Regions from separate parts of the Homo sapiens genome. Here region 2 is linked to region 1. The links come from fine-mapping of genetic effects on gene expression. A gene starts in region 1. The other region holds a variant in brackets. All regions are shown on one strand. Distances are between the middles of the regions. Region 1 holds the start of SCN3A (sodium voltage-gated channel alpha subunit 3). Region 2 has its middle 6.1 kb from the start of SLC38A11.

The links. PIP is the estimated chance that this variant, and not a neighbour inherited with it, causes the effect. A credible set is the group of variants that fine-mapping cannot tell apart.
Region 2: its variant is the best candidate, but not a certain one, in a credible set for the expression of SCN3A in subcutaneous fat (GTEx, PIP 0.71).

Annotation. Positions count from the first base shown.
Region 1 is chr2:165,202,831-165,205,764 of GRCh38, reverse strand. SCN3A (sodium voltage-gated channel alpha subunit 3) reads left to right here and starts at 1,715. Exons shown (of 28, transcript NM_006922.4): 1 at 1,715-1,942.
Region 2 is chr2:164,960,116-164,963,049 of GRCh38, reverse strand. No RefSeq gene overlaps it. Among named protein-coding and RNA genes, the nearest start is that of SLC38A11, 6.1 kb to the right of the region's middle. The variant T/C (reference allele first, on the strand shown) is at 1,391.

The DNA of each region.
Region 1 (2,934 bases):
GAGTCTCTGATAAGGGCTCCTTACATAGTTTGCCAATCTAGGATTAGCTAAAAAGATGAAAAGATGAGAAGTTTCCATCTATTTACACTATTCTAGTGTGGCAGAGATTGTGCCTCGCTTGCCTGAAGCCTGCAGAGTGCATTACATCCCATGGTTTACAAACAGCAGAACAGAGATGGCTGTGTGAGGCGCCTGGGGCAGGGAGGAAGGCTTAAGTCAGCCAATTACAGCCAAGAGTGACCCTGGGAACATGCTGCTTTTTCTTCTCTCCTCCTAAAGGACAGGAACAAAAGTTTCCTTAGAGGAAGAAGTGACAAAGAGGGGATGCTGCCATGCAAAGCTGGAGGGATGCTATTCCCGGGGCCCAGTGGGCCTGTGGGTACGTTAGTAGATATGAGGGATAATGATGGTCATGGATCATGCAGGACTCCTGGCCTCAGTGGATGCCCATGTGGAGAAAGGGGGAACGGGATCATACTCTGCTTTCTCTATATATGTACACAATCCTGAACTTAGATCAGTCTCCATGAGAAGGAGAGATAGAAGAGGAAAATCATGTATTGGTTGAATGCAAACCCAAAATCATTGGGAAAAGCCTCAAGTAATTTAGTTTACCTGGAACTGACTAGATTTATTTTTCTGCCATTAGACAAAATGGGGGCCACAATTGAAAACGAAGTATGTAATTAACAGTTCTTGAACACATGGCTGGGAAATATGGTATCAGCTATATTTGTTTTTCTTCTTTGTATGAGCTCCTTTATGGCAGGCACTGTGTGTTTCTCTCTGTGTCTTTTCAAGTCTAATATAATACTTGACATCATTTTTGTCCATCCATACAGTTGGTTTGTCAATATGAATGTATTTATTTAATTGATGATAAACTGTAATAAAATCATAGTTGTTTGCTCTAAAGTAGATATGAAAGGTCAGATGAAACAATAACATACATCTGGATTGAGAAATATCTTAATAACTGATGGATTATTTTTATTTTCTTTATGTATTGTGTGCTTCAATATCCTAATAAATAATATTAGCTAGGTTCACTGATGTATAGAATCTTTTTCTACATTTAGATATTTCTTGCAAATGTTTTACCAGAAAGCAACACAAAAATACTATCAGTGAGTATGTGTTTACACTGTTCTCTAAGGAGTCAAATTCCTCACCTTGAAAATAATTCATCCCAGGAAGAGAAAAGGTTTTCAAAAGACTAGAGCAGGCCACAAGGGAGCTTTCGCAAAACTCTACACGTAAAGGGTAATGTAAACTTAAAACCTATTTTTCAAACAGTAATTTATATATCTTTTAATTTTAGTAGTTTATGTGTGAAACAATCATGCAAAACAACAAAGTGATAAAATTTTTTAAAAAAATTAGTGAGATGCAAATAACTGAATATGTAAAAGGTCTCATACATATTTATATGTAGTAGATAAGTTACATTTTTTTAGTGTGTTGGGAAATTTTAGCTCACATCACCTCTCTACTGTCATCTTGGGGCACTTTCATGACTACCCATGCTTCATGCAGGTTTACTTTCCTCCCTGTGACAGAGGATAATGGGAATGTTTTTTCTTTGGCTCAATTTTGTGTGTGTCCGCCAGTAGATGGCGGTACCACTTTGAGTGCGATCGGCCTTTTTTTCTTTCTTTTTTTTTTTCCTCAAAGCTGTTTTCTGATATATGTTGGGTACCATAGAGTGAATCTCAGAACAGGAAGCGGAGGCATAAGCAGAGAGGATTCTGGAAAGGTCTCTTTGTTTTCTTATCCACAGAGAAAGAAAGAAAAAAAATTGTAACTAATTTGTAAACCTCTGTGGTCAAAAAAAAAAAAAAAAAAAAAAGCTGAACAGCTGCAGAGGAAGACACGTTATACCCTAACCATCTTGGATGCTGGGCTTTGTTATGCTGTAATTCATAAGGCTCTGTTTTATCAGGTAAGCTGACAAAACATTTCATTATCTGCACCATAGAACCTAGCTACCAGGTCATTTTCCTTACTTTAAAATCATCTTCATGCTGCTATTTTTAACCCAGTGTTGTTTAAATGTAAATTACAGGAACCAAAGGCATCGTTTGATGTGTAAACTGCTTACTATTTCTTTATCTTTCAAAGAAAATAGAGCCTGTCTGGAAATGGTGATTTATGGTACATACTAGGCATCAATGGTCTTGTGTTTTTGTAGATGCTTATGATTAATTGTATTCAGAAAAAATATTTTTTATTATACTTAAAGCTAGTCTAATGAGTTTCCTGGCTGTATGTCATCTATTTAAATGCCCAGTGTGTCCAGTATTTTTTAAACATAAATGTATAGTGAAATTGGAACTATCATTCTTGTGCTTTAGTTTTTTATTTAACAGCTTTAGAGAGGCCATGCATATAGGGAGTGATAACAATATAGAGGTGTTTGGCTTTGTGAAATACACTATCATTTTTCTCTAAAATCTGTTTTCATAGAGAAAAGAACACCAATACTAACCATTTAAAAGAGGTTGAACCTTCAAAAAATAAAATAATCTCTATATGTTCCATAATATGCTACTTCTTTATCCTTTAATATATTCATTTTATATTAAATGTTTACCTTTTAATTTATTGATTTAAAGATTATTATATATTCTTAATTGTTCTATAAGCTTGATAGATTGCTGTTTTTCTGTATATATTTAATAACTGTTTATTTTTATTAATTACCAGGAAGAACCACTGGAGCCATAAAACAATAATTTACTTTATCTATGATCCATATTGTCTGTAGTTGTATTTAGAATATTCTATATCATAACCATAAATGTTTCATTCAGTTAGCCACCACATAATTAGAATAAGAAATTATTGACAGAAAATCTATACATATTAATTGAAAGATAAGTTTTAAAAATCATACAGGGTTTTAAAATACACAACAGGTAGTATAATGTGGCT
Region 2 (2,934 bases), 240 kb after region 1:
ACACCCAGATCTGGAATATCCACCAGGGACCCAGACCCCTCTGTCTTATTATTCAGTCATCTTCAACATGAAGTTTCCAACAGGTGGTTGCTTCAGGGAAAAGCTCCAGCTTCAGCCATCATGTCTCTGCATTCTGGCCAGTGAGAAGGAGCAAAAGAAAGGTAAGGCATTATTTTCCTTCTCATTAAGGACTTACAGTTCACCTGCATCTTCTTCTTGGTCAAACTTAGCTGTATGACCACAACCGGTTACAAGTAAGGATGTATATTTCAGTTCTCTTTCCAGGTAGCCACAGTCAAGACCAAAATCAGAGTCTCTTTCAGGGTGGAGGAAGAGAAAATAAATATCTAAAGCCAAATAGCAGTTTCTCTTGCACCAAAATTCCCTCTATCTTATATGATTTTGGCCTAACGAAGTATTTTTCTGTTTGGATATATCAGCAGAAAACATTAATCAGAGCTTATTACAGGCCAAGCAAATAACTAAATACTTTAAAAATAGTATTATGGATTAAATTGTGTCTCCCTGAAAAGAGATGTTGAAGTCCTAACCCCTACTACCTTAGAATGTGACCTTCTATGGAAATAGATGTAGGTGCACGTGTAGTCAAGTTAAGGTGAGGCCATTAGGGTGGGCCCTAATCCAATATGATAGGTATCCTAATAAAAAAAAAACGGAGGGGATAATTTGAACTCAGACACAGACAAGACATGCACAGAGGGAACAGTGTGTAGAGACACAGGGAAAATGCCATGTGAAGATGGAGGATTGTAGTGTTGCATCTACAAGCCAACCACAAGAAGCTAGGAAAGATTCTCCCTTGTAGGCTTCAGAGGGAGCATGGCTCTGCTATTGCCTTGATTTGGGACTCCTAGCCTTCAGAACTGTGAGACAATAAATTTCAGTTGTTTTAAGTCACCCAGTTTATGATACTTTATTAAAGCAGTTTTAGGAAACTAATAGAAGTCTAGGTCACCTCCAAAGTTACTAGATAGAAGCAATAAGTTCTAGTGTTCTATTATGCTGTGGGGTGGATATAGGTAACAATGTATTATCTATATTCAAAAAGATAGAAGGGAGGATTTTGAATGCTCATAACACAAATAAATGATAAATGAGGTGACGGATATCCTAATTATCCTAATGTGATCCTTACACATTTTATACATGTATCAAATATCACTCTGCACCTCATAAATATGTACAATTATTATATGTCAAAAATTAAAAAATTAGCTTATCTCATTTAATTCCCAAAACTACCACTTTGAGAGAGGTACTCTTAGTTTTCCCTTTCTACAAATAAGCACATTAAGGCTCAAAGAATAAAGGAACTTGCCAAGATCTCTTGAACTTTGATTCAGACCCAGTTTTTTTCTGATTCCAGAGC[T/C]TGAGCTCCCAATACACTATACTAACTAAATAACCCAAAGCACATGTTTTTAAGATCTGCATCCTTTCTCAGCTTGAATACTATAAGAGATAACTGTGAAGTGTTATGTACATATTAGGTGAGATTAGTACCCCATAGGTCCCCCCATCCTACCCCATAGGTAGCATGATATTGGAACCTATCATCCAAACAGGGACACTTCTGAGAATGACAAAGATGCTTGATATAGTTTGGATGTATGTCCCCACCCAAATTTCATATTGAAATGTAAACCCCAGTGTTGCAGGTGGGGCCTGGTGGGAGGTGAGTGGATCATGGGGGCAGATTTCTCATGAATGGTTTAGCACCATCCTCATGGTACTGTCCTCGCCATAGTGAGTTCTCTTGAGATCTGGTTGTTCAAAAGTGTGTAGCAACTCTCTGGCTCCCTTGCTCCTGCTTTGCCTCCTGCCATGACCTTAAGCTTCCAGAGGCCTCCCCAGAAGGAGATACCAGTGTGATGCTTCCTGTACCTCCTGCAGAACCATGAGCCAATTAACCTCTTTTCTTTATAAATTACCCAGTCTCAGGTATTTCTTTATAGCAATGCAAGAATGGATTAATACAATGCTACTTATGATTACATTGGGACAGGAAGCCTAAATGACAACTATCTTGGGCAAACCAGGGCTTACTCACATGCTAATACTTACCTTATTGCTCAGTGTCCCATCCACTCTGACTCCTAACCAGAAATGTCACCGTAGCAGACTTACAGAATTCTAATAATTACAGTTAGAAAACATGAAAATACCTTAATTATGCAATAGTAATAATAATAATATGGTAGCACACAAATAATGTATTATTTCATGAGTAATATACAGAGCACATAAAATAATTACAAAAATGATGTTTAAGGTGATGAATCCTAAAAAAAGATATATTTTGATTATTTAGTTGAACATATTAGAGAAGACTTCCCAACAAAGATTGAGACATCTACCTCTGGAAAATTTAAAAAGAGAGAAAGTAAGGTTTAGCTTGTTTGAAACTCTAAATATTGGTGCTCTGTTTGTTACAGCAATGAAGCCAATAACCGAATACTGTGGAGAATGTCACGCATCCAGTTTTTCACAAAAAACAAAAGTACTCCTCTTAGACTCATTTCTAAGGTGGAGGAAAAAGTCACTCTTTCCCAGAGATATGTATTGAAAATTATTATATCTAGTCTCATCCAAATTTGGACTTCAATAATATCAGAAAGGAGTCAGATTACACATCAGGAAGAGCTTTCTAAATTTGAATTTCTGCCAAGATAGAGCCTTCTTTTATTATTTCTAAGAGAGCTGGGTAACCTTGGAAGTCACCTCGCCTGGACTGTAACCAAATAATAATGAAACATAATAATTCTACAAAGGCTTAGCGTATGATCTACATAATTATATAATTTGATAAAAAGCTCAAATTAGGGCTCTCTATATTTGTGAAAGTCCAGTTCCCATAGCCTCTGTCTGGGGCTAAGACAGACTCAATAAAACTATTTTTGCACATGTGAATATGCA